Regions from separate parts of the Homo sapiens genome. Here region 2 is linked to region 1. The links come from fine-mapping of genetic effects on gene expression. Tissue or cell type: whole blood. Region 1 holds a variant in brackets; the other region holds the start of a gene. All regions are shown on one strand. Distances are between the middles of the regions.

The links. PIP is the estimated chance that this variant, and not a neighbour inherited with it, causes the effect.
Region 2: OSTF1 starts here. The variant in region 1 is fine-mapped to the expression of OSTF1 in whole blood (INTERVAL, PIP 0.95).

The regions. Positions count from the first base shown.
Region 1 is chr9:75,129,847-75,138,049 of GRCh38, forward strand. OSTF1 (osteoclast stimulating factor 1) reads left to right here. Exons shown (of 10, transcript NM_012383.5): 4 at 732-795; 5 at 1,924-1,977; 6 at 3,448-3,555; 7 at 4,500-4,549; 8 at 7,692-7,770. Among named protein-coding and RNA genes, the nearest start is that of OSTF1, 45 kb to the left of the region's middle. RefSeq lists an enhancer at 6,907-7,406. The variant C/T (reference allele first, on the strand shown) is at 4,206.
Region 2 is chr9:75,084,349-75,092,504 of GRCh38, forward strand. It overlaps OSTF1 (osteoclast stimulating factor 1), which reads left to right and starts at 4,166. Exons shown (of 10, transcript NM_012383.5): 1 at 4,166-4,378. The coding sequence starts at 4,345. It overlaps NMRK1 (nicotinamide riboside kinase 1), which reads right to left and starts at 3,807. Exons shown (of 9, transcript NM_017881.3): 1 at 3,660-3,807. RefSeq lists silencers at 3,677-4,276, 4,467-4,556.

The DNA of each region.
Region 1 (8,203 bases):
GGAAATTTGAGTATCGACCTAGATATTTGATGATATTAAGGAATTATTGTTGGAAAAAACTTTTAAGCTGTGATAATGGCATTATAATTGCCTTTCAAAAAGTATGTGTCTTTCAGAGATACGTACTGAAATATTTACAAATGAAATAATATGATGTCTAGAATTTATTTTAAAATAATCCAGGAGGGGAGGGACGTCATGGGGGCATATATGAAACAATATTGGTCATTAATAAATGATTTGTGCAGTTGGGAAATGGGTATATATATGGTCATTACATTGTTCTTTCTACTTTTTTGTAAGTTTAAATTTTTCTATAATAACAAGTTACCCCCAAAATGAAGATAATATAAAGAGATCTTTAGAACTTCCTCCCCCATAAAAAAAATTATCTCAAAGCTAAGAGAAATGAAACTGTGGACAAAAAATCATATAGCTAGTCTAAACTAGCGTAATTTGTTTTCTTCTGTTTCATGTCATCTCTTATTTGTTTGGTTGTTGAGACTCTGTCATGAAACGTATTCCATTTGTTGCAGGCAGATGCGTGTTTATTTGTAACTGAGTGGTAAGGGAGACGGACACCCACAGCTAGGGCGTGAGGAAGCTTGATAGTGTGGGTAGGGTTGATGGACATTTTGTAGAACAGGTACTCCCTAGGAGCTAGATAATTTGAAAAGTGAATGAATGCAGTCTGGATTTCATACCACTTAATTTAACTCTTCTTTTACCAGAGCGATACCAATTGGTGGAAAGGCACCTCCAAAGGCAGGACTGGACTAATTCCAAGCAACTATGGTAAGTGTTGCTGAGTGGTTTTACTTTAGCTTCGTTCACTTGGAATTTTTTGGTTCTTGATGCTTTTCTGCTTGCTACTGTGGCTGAGAAAGCAATGGAGTCATTGTCAGTCTAGGACATTTTCTATTCCATGAGCCTTCTGTTAATAAACTGGCCATGAACACCAGATGTGCTTGAGCCTGACTCTGTGGCCTAAGAGAATGCATTTTAGCATTCTTAACCCAAGGTTTCCAAGGAAACACTTATGGTTTTACTTTCTTCAACCCTTAAAACAATTTTTTTTAATGCTGATAAACTCAATCTTGCAGATAGTTTCTTAGACTAGCCGTTTCTTTTGTGATGGAGTAACCCGGCCTTGTTCATTCATGTTTGGGGCAGTGATGTTCATTAAATGCTTATCATGGCAGTTTGGAGACTTTGAGAGATGAGAGACACGGCTCCCGCCATGAAGCTGCTTCAAGCTGGAAGTGGGACAAACAGATAAAACACTTGTTTAGTTGTCAGCAGAATCAAGTCAAAAGAGCACAGAATTGATAAACAAGGCTCCTGAGTTTTAATCCTCTTTCTTCCATTTCCTAATAACACTTCCTACTGATTCTAGGACAGCAGCGAACATGCCTTCTTTAAGAGGCAGGTAGCTATGCTGATTGTTCTTTCTGAATACAGGAAGCAAAATACTCCCCTCATCCGATCCTACATAAATACACACAAGAGAACCAAAATTATTTTCAGGTATCTTTAAAGCAGAGTGATCTACAAAATGTAAAAATGAACATCAAATGCTTCCTTTTGCATTTTTGTGACTTTGTTTATTAAATACTTGAGTAATATCAAGTGTGCATTTAACTCAGGTATGCGGGTTTGTTTGTTTTTGTTTATACTTCCAGTTAATTACTATGTTATTGCCTTATTGCTTGGCTTGGTTTCCCTAAACACATAATTCAGCTTCATTTAATGCAAGAACTATCCATTTGATTTTCTGTTACTTTTTATCCACATTAAGTAAAGGAAACTGTGTTGAATGCCCTGGTACTCCTGAAGCTGGGGGACTGTGGTGAATGAGTGGCTTCAGTAAATCATTTGTGTGGCAATTCCACATTGGGTTAACACTTTTTATTTTCAATCTAGTGGCTGAGCAGGCAGAATCCATTGACAATCCATTGCATGAAGCAGCAAAAAGAGGTAGGTGTGATTCTTTTTGACTGAGGTATGCAGTACAGTAAAAGGCACGGATTTCAATTAGCTTTGACAAGTGCATACACCCACGTAACCAACACCCAGATCAAGATCTAGAACATTTCTGCCATCCTAGAAAGTTCCCTTTGCACCTTCTCAGTTAAATCCCTGCCTTACAGTCTGTCCCAACATCTACTACCCTAGAGAAGTGTGATTTTAGTTTTAAAATGTCAGTCAAGAAACACTGTTGTGGGGAGATGCAAGTCGAAAGACATGGTCTGTGACTTCCAAAGCACAACATCTGGCAGGGGAGAGAGAGATGTAACAGATCATTAAAATATGGTATGATAAGTACAGCAATTGAAATGTGTTTGACAGGCCGTAGAGGCCCAGGTGAGTAACTGGAGGGCAAGAGAATGGAAGGGTCTGGTGGGTACAGCATTTAGGAGAGCGTTGGTGTGGTGAGCATTTGGCCAGGGAGGGCATGACTAACAGGGATGAACCTGGGGAAGATCCTTGACCAAACAACGATCAGCCTTGTCTTGGGCTTTATTCTGTAGATCAGTAGTCCTCAGCTAGGGGTGATTCCTCTTTCACAAACCCCGAGGGTATTTGGCAATATCTGGAGACATGTTGACTGTCATGACTGGAGGGATGTTACTGGCATCTTTTGGGGAGAGGCAGGCGTTGTTGCCACACATCCTACAGCACACAGGAGCACCCCCACAATAAATCCAACCCCAAATGCCAATGGGGCTGCTGCTGAGAAACCCTGCTGTAGATAATGGGGAGTTTTTGTAAAGCCTCAATGAGCTCCATTTCATTCCATTTTTAGATTTTTTTGGAAATCTGAATGTACACAAGGAAATTATTGGTTAGGATTGTGAAAAAGTAAAAGGACTAAACTGACATTTAAAAAATTCTTTGTGAATTAGATACTTGGGACATTAGCCTGAGGATTTTAAATTAATAGTTATAGTTTAGCATATAAGAGCAGCAGCTTTGAGTAGGTTATTTAGCCTTTCTTATAGGAACTGAAGATGCATTTTAAATATGAATATGAATAGTATCTGCTTGTTCTTAGGTTTGATTGTTTTTTCCTCAATTTCCAGAATTTCACAAAGAAAAAAATAATATATACACATACACACACATACACACACACACACACACACACACACACACACACACACACCCCTATATATTTTTTAACAGAATAGAAATACCTTAAGTATACCCATTTGGGCAACTATTCCCATTAACTTATCATTAGAAACATTGATGTTAATACTTTCCATTAATAAGCTGGAAGTCAAAATGTACCATAATAAATGCATTAATGGGGAGGTCTTAATTTAATACTTGCTGATTAATCCATTGCAAATGGAAATTTATGCAGAATGACATTGATTTAAAAGCAAAATAAAAAGTGAAAGCTTTTTTTCTTGTGTTCTTGTAAATGTAAAATTCTTTCAGGCAACTTGAGCTGGTTGAGAGAGTGTTTGGACAACAGAGTGGGTGTTAATGGCTTAGACAAAGCTGGAAGCACTGCCTTATACTGGGCTTGCCACGGGGGCCACAAAGGTATTACATTTTGTTTGTTATATGTTTCTATGCTGCTGAAAATGTGTTTCACCTACGGGAGCCAGATTTACAAAAAATGAGAAAGGAAAAGCATTGGCTATTCTTTTTGAATCCTTTAGAATACCGGCCAAAACCCTTGTTCCTGGAAGCTCTGTAGAACAGTGGGTAGAATGTGGTCAGTCAGCCTCACTGCATGGGTCCCTCTCGCTTGAAAGACTGGACACTTCCTTTCCTCTCTCAGGCTTAGAAAGGTTACTGGAAAACAGCAGTAATATAAAAACAAAACCACTGTCTAATCTTACAGAAGGAAAGATCAGAATTTGCTCCTCTAGCTTAGCTTTTCACAAGGTCTTCTTTTATGATTTGCATTTTAAGTTTAATGCAAACTATTAGATTCAAGAGAAAGCCAACATTTGCCAAAGTTAGTGATTCCATTGATACTTTTTCTGTTGTAATCAATAATAATGACAAATTGAATTTTTAGATGTATTTCTTCCTGGACAAAAATTTATCACCCACCGCTTTTCTACCTCTCTCTATAACAAAAGAAATAAACTCAACAACAATAAGAAATGAAGATCTCAACAAATTAAATAGCAGTGCCAAAGGAAAATTTGTAACTGTCTACTAAAAAGAAGCCTATCTTATTT[C/T]AGCTAATAAACATGTTAGTTATATGAATGAAAAGTATTATAGTGAATGTAAAAATATTCCTCTAAGTGTCATATGAAAATGCAAAAGCCAAAACTATTAGAAAAAGTATATTTTCCTAAATAATTCCACTTTTTAGATTCTTAAGTTTTTCTATTTTATAAATTTTACAAAATGTGTTAACATTTTCTTGAAGGTTCTTCTGAAGAATCTCTCTTTTATAAAATTATTGTACCTAGATTTGTCAGGCTTCTAATTTTCGTTCTTAAAAGGTATCTTTTCTCTTTGAATTTCAGATATAGTGGAAATGCTATTTACTCAACCAAATATTGAACTGAACCAGCAGGTAAGACTGCTTATTTGAAAATTATTTAACACATACCTGCTTGTTGTCTTTAGTACAGAGCAACTCATGGGCATGTGAAGTATTGTAGTCAAAATCCCACAAGCACATAATTTAAAAATTATAATTGTACTAAAATTCAAATTATCCACAGCCCCAAGTGCCAAACCCACTCCTCCTCATATGTCACTTTCAGCTTTTAGCTCTTTCTTCCTGTACTTACCTTTGTGTTACTAAGGAATAGGCTGACGGAGCTATCTCGCCATGCATTGTCTTCATGTGTACTTTGGCCTCCTGTTGGGTATGTGAAGGGTTAAGCTTGTCAGCTGCCCCAGCTCTCATCTTTCAGCACCCCAGCACCAAGCCTGTTCTCCTCTGCTCCTCAGTGTACTTCATCACAGTTTTTGGTTATATTACTATATAATATTTACTTTATTATGGGTGTCTAAATAGTGTTCACTGCTTATATAACCTTTTTTTGTTTCTGTACTTACTTTTTAAAACTCATTTTTTGTTATCTCACTGTGACTTCTCTACTGTTTTATACAGTCTTGATATATAATACTTTTCCAAAATGTGTAAGATAATCAACAGCTTTCTTTTTTCTCCCTGGATTCATTACTTCCTGAAGCTCTCCATCATTCTCCAGTCTGAGCAGCTTGGTCCCTGTGGCCCTTTGCTGTCCTCCAGGGAACCCCTTCCGTTCTCTGCCATGTTGCATCTTCATTTTTCTGGATCCCTTGTCTTTCTTTTGTCAGAGAACATCTTCAAGTAGATTCCTGAGAAAGAGAAGCTTGGGATTGATTATATGGCTGATCAGAATTCTAGGTCAAAAACAGTTTCCCTTAGAATTTTGAAGGCATGGCTCTGTGGCATTCTTGTTTCCAGGGTTGCTTTTGAGAGATTTGGTGCCATTTTGATTCCCATTCTTTTATGTATGATCTGCTTTTTCTCTTGCTAAGAGTATTTACTTTATTGTTGGTGTTTTCAAATTTTATGATGATGTGCTAGCATTCATCTCTTCCCAATGATTATGATGAACTCTTTCAGCCTGGAAAATTATCTTGTATTTCTTTTAGAATTTTTATCTGACCCTTCTTTGTTCTTTTGGTTCTGGAATGCCCATTAGTAGGATGTTGGACTTCTTGGATTGAACCTTCAGTTTTCTTAATTTTTCCCAGAGATATTCTCACCTTTGTTTTATTTTGGTTATCTTTTTAATTCCCCAGAGTTCTGTATTAGTTTTCTATTGCTGCCTAGCAAACGACCACAGGCTTAGCAGCTTATACTTTCTGTACGTCAGAATTCTGGGCATGGCATAGCTGCGTTCTCTGCTCAGGGTCTCCCAGGTGGAAATCAAGGGATTGGCTGGAGCTGGATTCTCATCTGGAGCTTGGGGTCTTCTTCCAAGTGCATTTAGGTTGTAGGAAGAATTGATTTTCTTCTAACTGTAGTATTACTGAGGCCCTCAGCTTTTAGAGGCCACCCCTCTCTGTAGACAGCTCACAGTATGGCTGTTTGCTTTCTTCCTCAAGGCCAGAAGGAGATTGTCTCTCTGCTGTTTCATTGTTTTTATTTTTTAGGGGCCCACCTGGTTAGGTCAGGCCCACCTGGGATAATGTCCCTTTTGAAGAATTCAACATCCGCTGACTAGAAACCTAATTATGGGAGTGATAGCCTGTTACATTCACTGCTTTCACTTGCAGTCAAGAGGAGGGGGCCTGTACCAGGGCCAGGAACCTTGGGGGCCATTCTTAGAATTCTGTTATAAGCCCTTATTTTACTCTGATTGTTACTTTTACGTAGTATCTTTTTCTTGTTTCATGACACAATATGATCTTATATCTTGCTGATATAATATTTATAACTTTTCAAACTATGTTTTTTGGCTCTTCACTGTACTGTGTTTTTTCCCTTTGAGATCCATTTATTTTGTTTGTTTTGGTCTTTACTAAAATATTGTAGGCTTTCCACGAACACTTGGTGTCATTATCCATTCATTATTATTTTTTTAATTTGAGATGGAGTCTCGCTCTGTTGTCCAGGCTGGGGCGTAGTGGCGCAATCTCAGCTCACTGCAACCTCTGCCTCCCGGGTTCAAGCTATTCTCCTGCCTCAGCCTCCCAAGTAGCTGGGACTACAGGCCCATGCCACTGGCCTGGCTTATTTTTGTGTTTTTAGTAGAGACGGGGTTTCACCACGTTAGCCAGGCTGGTCTCGAACTCCTGACTTCAGGTGATCCGCTCTCCTCGGTCTCCCAAAGTGCTGAGATTACAGGTGTGAGCCACCATGCCTGGCCCTTATCCATTCATTTTTAGGTGTGATTGGAAGCTGTGTGTGCTTGGTGAGGCCTGCTGGCGGTTGGGCTTCTCCATAGGGTGATGTGGTGAGGTCCTGGCTATTTTGCTAGGTGACACCCAAATGCTAATGAAAGTGACACTCCTTCCCTTCCCTGCACATGGGGCTGCACTGCTTCACCAGAGAAGTGCCCTCCAGTCTCCTGCCTGGGGGTATGTGCACACTGGGCAGTGGGGTACGTAAAGGTACCTGAGAGAGGGGTCTTACTGTTCAGTCTGTAGGTTTTTTACCTAACCCTCAGGTTTGAGTTTCTGGCCTTTTGCTACTTCTCTTGTACCTAGTGTTCATGAACTTGGAAACTATCAGGTTAATTTCTCAACAAGTAAATCTGTCATCATTATTGGGTCATCTGGCAGCAAGAGAAGGGGAAGAGGTTCTGAGATTCTACTTTTTATGAGTACTTTAAACCAATATCTCTGTTTTCCCACCCATGCCTCATGCCTGCCCTAGCACCTCCAGGAATCTCCAATTCCTAATTTTTGCCAGGCTTCTGCATGTTCAAATCTGCTTCCTTCCTCCTGGATCTCCCTCCGCAGGCATGTGCTTTTCAGCTCGTGCTCCACCAAGTCAGCTTGTACTCCTCCATCCTATTCCATCTCCCAAAAATGACTCCTCTCCCATCTCTTGAGTCTCCTTTCCTTTTCTCTTTGGAATTTTATGTGGTTCTATAACTTTGTTCCCATTTTAGGTTTAACTTTTAGGTTTAACTGGGTTAAACCTGAATTAACATGTACTTTCAATCCACCCTCTATCTTAAAAATGGTACTTTCTCTTTTTATCACTATAGAACAAGTTGGGAGATACAGCTTTGCATGCTGCTGCCTGGAAGGGTTATGCAGATATCGTCCAGTTGCTTCTGGCAAAAGGTAAAGTTTGTGCTGAGTTTATCTGGTCTTTGCTTGCCCTGAAAAATAGTCTATATCAACTTACGCCATTTGAAATGGTAGGAAGAATAATAGTCTTATTTCAAAATAGGGTTTAACCTTTGCTCTGCCTGTGTATCATGGAATAGTTATGATAAAATAAAATTATTGGGGGTTGGTTTGTGTTAGTTTTTAATATAAACTAAAACCATGGCAAGCTTTAACATTACATATATTACTTTTAGTAAGAACTGTATTGTATGTTTCTGCAGGATTATAGAGCCTTAGAAACAAAGAATGTATGTGTACACGTGTGTTGGGGAGATCCTGTCTGAGAAAGCTGTATAGGTAAAGTTGCTGAGGCCCCTGTTCTCACAGGGAAGTCTTGACAGATAAGCAAGAATGATGCGGCTGCAATGTCCTGCTTTGAGCTGAG
Region 2 (8,156 bases), 46 kb before region 1:
TTATGCAGAAAAAAGCCTGGTGGGAAGAGGGCTATTGTTGTCTGACTTCTTGGCTTATCTAAATATCCCACATTGAGTACAATTGCTTAAGACTGGGGTCCACTTCCATTAACAAGTCTATGTGAGACAAGAATCAATAATGACTGTGATAAAATAGCAGCAGGGCACTGTGGCTCATGCCTATAATCCCAGCACTTTGGGAGGCCAAGGCAGGCGGATTGCTTGAGCTCAGGAGGTTGAGACCAGCCTGGGCAACATGGCAAAACGCTACCTCTACCAAAAATACAAAAGATTATCCAGGCATGGTGGCATGCTCCTGTAGTCCCAGCTACTTCGGAGGCTGAGGTGGGAGGATTGCTTGAGCCTACAAGGTGGGGGTAGCAGTGAGTGGAGATTGAGCCGCTGCACTCCAGCCTGGGTGGCAGAGTGAGGCCCTGTCTTAAAAAATAAAATAAAATAGCAGACAAGTTGCATATTTAAGTTTCATCCAGAGTTATGTTGTTGAATACACATCTCCATCCAAATTTACAAGATGTATCGAGGGAATGACTGCATACAATGAATATTGTAAAATACATTTTTATGTTGTAATTTTTCTGCTTTTGAATTTTATTTTACCCTATTCTTATTTTTTTGGTATGTCGGTTCAATGCTGCCAATTAGCCTTTTTTTGGGAAGGGAGAGGCTGCTCTTTATCTCACTTTTGTGGTGATAAATGTTCTTTCTCTTACAAAACTATGTTGTCAGAAGATGTTAGTAGAGTGATATCCTCACTTTACCAAATAAAATAAAAATTCATAAAACCTTGTCATTCCTTGCCCCCATTATTTTTGGATAGCTCGCTGAAGCATAAATTCTCAAACTTGGAGAAGTATAGCTTTAGCGATTACTTGGTCTACCCCTTCATTTTGCATAAGTGGAAACTGGCTCAGACAATAGAGCAATTTGCCTAAGGTCACACAGACAGTAAGTGGAAAAGCCAGATATTAAACTAAACCAATTGAGCTGACTTCTTTCTATCACTCCAAGCTGCTAAAAAGCACTTTATTACTAACAGCAAAGAAAGGGTGTTAGGTATGTGCTAGCTTAATTGTCAGGCTCTGATGTATAATTGATGTCATTCTTACTGATGTATTATTGATGGGGCATCTATTTGCTGTGCACACAGAATGGAAAGGACTACTGGTCCCCGTCCTAAACTGCCACATCTGTGGTTACACGTGTGACCATTGCATCAATTACATGGCATGTAAATAACAAGTGAGCATGGTTGTGGCATGGGAAATAGGCTTGAGGGGGTTACTTGCATTCAGGAACCAGGAGTAAGATGGCATAAAAAACCTACTTATAAAATCTCTCAGATACAGTCAAATGTAAGTTTTTTTTTTTTTTTTTTTTTTTTTTTAACCAAAACAGGAACTCCCAGTTCTACATTAGTTAGCAGTCTGGGCCTGTCCAAGCCAGTGTTTGGGTAAATGCTGGGCATACCCTATCAGCTATGAGCAAGTGACAATGTGATGGGAAGGGTGGGTAACTGGAACATGCAGAGACAAGAGAGGCAACTGGGCTAAGTGACTAGGGCGGGGTGGGGGGTGGGCCTAGCAATCCCTGAAGGCATTTATTTCAAAAACAGTGTGGATGCACAGGGCAGCTTTAGGGGAGCTCCAAGTTCAGGCCTGGCACTGTCCACCTCCACATCACATTCTACTATTTCATTGCCTGTTGCCCCTATAAAAAAAATCACCAAGGCTGCAGTGAGCCATGACTGTGCCACTGCATTGCAGCCTTGGTGACACAGCGAGACCCTATCTTGAAAAAAACCAAAACAAACAGGCAAAAAACAACCCAAAAACTGCCTCCCATAAAACCAAAAACAAAACAAAAAATCAAATTTAAAAAGCTCGCAATTGAGTTGCCAGGCTTCATGAAGCAAATGCAAGCTTCGTACAAACTGTAAATCATGTGATGTGTCCAAAGAGTCATCATTTCAGGGCACGTCTATCACTAGAATCCACACCACCTTCAATCTCATGGAATATCTGTGTAGTTTATTTTCCCAGTGCGTGCAAGGCTTTCCTCAACAGCGGAGAGCTTTTGCATAGCAGGAGAACAAACTAGGATAGCCAAGAGCAAACCTGAAATGACTAATTTTATTTTTTACACTTTTTTTTAACCCTAAGTAAAATGTTGGGTTTTTTAAAATAATTCAGGTGTGTTTATTATGCTTAATTCATTTCACTACTAAACACTTGCCTTTTGGATTCTAAACTGCAGAATGGTCAGAAGTGGCATGTGCAGAATCAGCAGATTGTACGAACTCTCTAACGCAGCTCTCTAACGCAAATGATCTGAAAGACAGCTGACAAAGCTAAATGTGCTCTTCAAATGTATCTACAGGACAGTCTGATATTTTAAAAAGAGAAAAATGTTTCCAGGACTTCTTACTCTGTATTCTATCCAACAGCTATTTTGATTCTCTTCTTCCAGGAGATAGGGCAGTCTTTTCCTACTATTGTTTAAACTTTGCTCCCTTTTGGTAAACAAATCCCTCAAGGCTGGGTTTTTTTTTTTTTTTTAAGACAGAGTCTCGCTCTGTTGCCAGGCTGGAGTGCAGTGGCGCAATCTCGGCTTACTGCAACCTCCGCCTTCTGGGTTCAAGTGATTCTCCTGCCCCAGCCTCCCGAGTAGCTGGGACTACAGGCGTCTGCCACCACGCCCGGCTAATTTTTTGCAGTTTTAGTAGAGATCGGGTTTCACCAGGTTGGCCAAGATGGTCTTGATCTCTTGACCTCGTGATCCACCCGCCTTGCCCTCCCAAAGTGCTGGGATTACAGACGTGAAGGGCTGGGGTTTTTGAAAACGCAATTCATGCCCCTCCCCCATTGGTTTCATTTATGTAGGTTCTTAGGTAAACAGTTTTTTCTTTCCCCAAATATACAATTAATTTACAATATTGACTGTTATTTTGAACTTATGCCATTGGCTTCCTTGTGTGCTCCAGTTCTTTCCTCCCACCGAAGATTCAATCCGATAGATCAGGGGTAGGAAAACTTTTTCTGTAAAGTGCCAGACAGGAAATGCTTTGGGCTTTGCCAGCTGCTACTCAACCCTGCTGGGTAATGCGAAAGCGGCCACAGAAAACACAGATGCAAATGAGCGTGACCGTGTTCCAGTAAAATTTTACGGACACTGAAATCGTAATTTCATGTAATTTTCACGTGTCACAAAGTATTATATTTCTTTTTATTTCTTTTCAGTCATTAAAAAAAGTAAAAAAAAAAAAAATTCTTAGCAGGCCTTACAGTAACAGGCAGCAGGCGGGCAGTAGGTCATCACCCCAACGCTAGAGGAATGAGACCATATCGATCCGCGAGGATCAAGTCCTGATCCTGTCCCTGGCGACTTCTCCAGGCTGCGCGGTCTCTTGGAGGCAGCGTTCCCATTTTCAGGATTATTCCGGGGCGCTAGAGCACCACGCCACCATGAGTACACGTCCTCCTCGGCAGGCCACCTATCAGCTCTGTGAGGGTGGCAAGAGTCCAGGCAAGGCTTTCAGGGCGCAACCAAGTCCCGGGCTCCAGCACAGAAACCCTCTGGAAACACCTCCAGGCCCCAGCAAGGCGGCGCGGCGCGGCAGGGGCGAGCAGGTACGCACTCACCTGGCGCCAGTTCGAGTCCTCCCAAACACAGCGGCAGAGGCGACAGCCAAGCGCGCGCCTGTACCCAGTGCGCCGCTACCCGCAGCTCGCTCCCCGAGAGGCCCACAGCCCCTTTCCCCACGCTCCTCCTGGGTTAGAGGGATGCCAGGTAGGGGCGGTCACCAGAGGCCCCTTTTCTCTACTCTCGGCGCCGGGTTCCAGCCCCCGTTGGGGCGGGGCGGGGCGGGGCGGGGCTCCGGCTAGCTTGGCCTCTTCCGCGCGCCCCTGCGCAGCTCCGGCCCTTCCCTATCGGGAGCGCGCGCGGCCCGCGGCACTGCACTGGCGCACGCCCGCTTCGCCCTCGCTCGGCTCCGGCTGGTTCCGCCGCCGTGCGCGCCGCCCGCGCTCCTGCTGCGGCGAAGCTGCCAGCCCGGGAGCCAATTAGCGCTCGGCTAGGCGGGGTCCACTTCCTCGTCGGCCCGGCGCGCGCTCTGGACTGCTCCGGCGGCCGCGGGGCGGGGCGGAGCACTCGGCGGAGCCGCTCTGCCTGCGTCCGCTCTTCCCGCAGCCAAGGGTGGGCGCCGGTCCTAGGAGGCGCACGGTTGTAAGCCAGACAAAAAGAACTGGGGTGCCCGGAGTGCCAGGTGGCGGGCAAGCGGTGGGCTTTTCGGCGGGGTCTTTAGGATTTGCAGCTCCAGGAAGCGAGATGTCGAAGCCGCCACCCAAACCAGTCAAACCAGGTGAGGGAGGTAAGGTAGGCGCTTGCCAGGTCCTGCGACCGCCGCGGTGCCGGCGCCTCCTCTGCAGCTTGGCAGGGAGGACCCGGCGCGCACCCGGCCCCGAGCCTGGCTTCCGAGATCGGCCCCACCGGGATGGGCGCTCTTAGTTTTGCGTTCGCTGTTACGGAGGAGGGATCGATTTTGATAGCAAGAGGATTTCGAGGATTAATATATATATATATATTTAAAGGGGAGTAGCCCTCACTTTTGCTACGTTGTCATTCGCTGAAACTTTCAGAGGGTGTGATGGCAACGTCCCATGGAAGTTTTCCGGAAAGACAGGGCCATTGATCTCCCTTTAAAAAATGTCATGAAATGATCTTTAGCCACTTCCTCTTTTCTCAGTGTTTGTCACTGTCAAGTTAGGGTTCCTGACCGGCCAGAGCGAACGGGAAGTGCAATCCCTGCAGGGTGGGGTGGGCGAGCGAGCCTCCCTCGGGACTTAAGCGTGGAGCAGCGTTTGAAATTGACCTCGGGATCTTGGGAAGAGCGTTTAGAAAAAAACCCTATACTCGCGCTCCTGGTGGAAAGAATCTAGGATGCGGCAGTGATCTCAGCTGTTGCTATTTGGAAGTGTCATTTTATCATCTCCTTTGCCTTTGCTCTCCCAAAGACGTTGGCGTGCTAAACCTGAGAGGGCTGAGATTACTAAATTCCTCAAAGCAGTTTTCTGGGCGGATTGTCCTTGTTCATTTTTGCTCTGTTCTTAGAATATTTTCTGTGATATGCAGAAATAAGATAATTGTAAAAGAAACTGACGTATTTTAATTAAAAGTTGTAACATACTGTTCCGCTCATTCATTTGGGTAGGTAATTAGAAAGGACTGACGTATTTCAATACTTTAACAACTCTTACGTGCATTCATTTGGGTAGGTAATTAAGGGAAATACAGGAAATGGAAGATAAATGGCTCCGATGTATTCTTGGGTTTTTTCTTCCCATAGTGTAATTTCGGTATAGCGAAATGCTGAAATTTAATCCATTTACGTCAAATTTTGAAGTAACTTTCTTTGCAAGAGATGAGTTTCAGTGATTACTTTTTTCCTTGATTTTCCTAAACTCTATAGCTTTCATACTTATCTAGTTTTGTTTCTTTGCGTTCCTGCAGTTGGAGTATGAAGTCCCTTTATTTGATAATCATGTACGTACGTATGTGGAATAGTGCTTCACTGAGGACTGACATCTTGGTGGGCTGAGTGTGAAGGAAGTTGCTGAGACTGGCTCTGCCCTGGGCAAAGATGGGGCACAGCTAGAGTTGGGTTCTGCATTGCATTAGATGTGGAATCTGATGAGAAATTTCCATTTTAAGTGCATATGTATGAGGTAGCTTTCTAAACTCAGGTGCAAATCAGGACCTTAAGTATCTAACAGTGCAGAGTTGTTCTTTGATAGCTAAACAATATTTTATTTATCTTATTTTTTTCTGATCACCTGCTGCCAGTTGAAATACGTTAAAGAATGCCCTTTTTAAAAATCTCTTCATGCGTATTAAATGCTGTCTATATTGCAAATGGAGGGACATTGACAGGTGTGTGTGTGTGTGTGTGTGTGTGTGTGTGTGTGTACACAGTAATGTATACATGTGGGTTCATTCACACTTGGGGGTTTAAGGGTCATCCTGTTACTAATTGTGGATACATTCCCAGGAACCTCCTTTCTCCTTCACATCAGAAAGCTTATGGTTAAACATGACAGGTGTTTAGAGGGAACTTTGCATTTTATTTTATTTTAATTTGTTTTATCTGGTCCTTGATTCAGGATAAAGGGAATTTTGAATCAACATTAATTTACAAATGAGATCCAGACACAAAGTTACCATAGAAATGGGTTTGCCAGTTTAGTAATTTACAGTGAGAAACATTACTGCCAATCAGAGTTGAAACTTTGTGTGGGCTAGCTTAGTTGAAGAAAAAAAAAAAGCGATGGCCAGGAGCAGTGGGCCATGCCTGTAATCCTAGCACTTTATGAGGCTGAGGTGGGAGGATTGCTTGAGGCTAGGAGTTTGAGACTAGCCTGGGCAACATAGCAAGACCCCGTCTCAACAGAGTACAAAAAACAAAAACAGAAATGTCCTATCGTAGTACTGTCCCACATTTACTGTGTGTTAGGCAATGGTATAGTCACTTTACACGTGTTAACACATTTGCTGCTCTCAACAATCTTATGAGATCAGTACCATTATATTGTTCCTGTTGCACAGATGGGGAAATAAAGATGCGCAGAAATGTTATTTAACTTGTCTAAAGTCAACAGTTAGAGTGGGGGATGTAGCAGGCAGTATTAAAACCCAGGTAGTCTGGCTTTGAAGTCTGCACTTTTTTTTTTTTTTTTTTTTTTGAGACAGACTCTCGCTCTGTTGCCCAGGCTGGAGTGCAGTGGCGCGATCTCGGCTCACTGCAACCTCCGCCTCTCGGGATCAAGCAATTCTCTGCCTCAGCCTCCCGAGCAGCTGGGATTACAGGCAGCCCGCCACCATGCCCGGCTAATTTTTTTTTTGTATTTTTAGTAGAGACAGGATCCAGGCTGGTCTTGAACTCCTGACCTTGTGATCCACCCTCCTTCGCTTCCCAAAGTGTGGGATCACTGTGCCTGGCCAAAGTCTGCACTCTTAACCATTTGCTATTCTGCCTTAAGTCATAGTGCTCCATTCACACTGGCGGTCAAATGTGTATTTTAGAGCTGGTGGTCAGGAAGTCGAAAGGGAGGGGCCTCTGGTCTACAGACTTTCTTGTCACAAATGCACATAAAGGTCAGCCCCTGGTTGACAGCAAGGAGAGTGGTGTGGAGCTTTACTTTCTTGTCCTGCAGGCAAGCTGCATGGATAAAAATCTCCAAAGACAGCATGGGATTGGGGGCTTTGGGGTTGTATTTAATTTTTTGGTTTGTTTAAACCTTGCCTCATTCCAAAAGGACTTCTAAAAATACACATGATCTGAGAGAGAGGAAAAAGTAAAGATAAAGCATGGTCATCTAGAGGAAGGGAAGAATAGTAAGATGAAACAAGAGGAAAAGCTAGCTTACAGACAGACCTGCATGTGTAGTAAGGTCACTGTAGATTTGGCTCTCAGCTGCAAGCAGAGAGAAAAATCTCAAGATTCATAGTGCTCATAAAATTAAAATGTGTCACTTACTCTGAAAAGTAGTTATTTTAATGGCATTGAGATCTGAGACAGATTTTCCTGTGGGTTCTCTTAAAGTATTGGAGTGGCCTGGATATCTCTAGCAGAAATACAAGACAGAACATCCTAGCCATGTTTCTTACAGCTTCTTTCAGAGCAAGATTTGGGCAAAACAGCATGGCTCAATTCAGTAGACAATACTAAAAGGAAAGGAGCTAGGTGAGTAAGGACAAAGGACTTGCTGGAAGATATTAAAAACAAGGGACATTAAGCTATAATGCAGGCTAATAGCATCTTTCTGGCTGATCAGCACATCCCCAACAGGGGGCCGATTTGTGGAAGGAGGCTGCCCAGGGAAGTCCCGGGCAGATGCTAGTGGGAGACCCTGGCCATTTTTGTACCATCTGGAGGATAGATCAGGGTTACCTTGTTTGGGTTTTTGGCCATATCCAGAATTCATTTGCTAAACAAATGTTTCTTAATAAATGTAGCTCATATATTAGGCCCTGTGCTAGACACTGGGGTTCCCAGGAACAATAATCTATGGTGTCATTCACGAGGGTCCTGAGTCTAATGGGGAAGACGTATGTATCTACAGATATTACCTAGAGTATCCCAT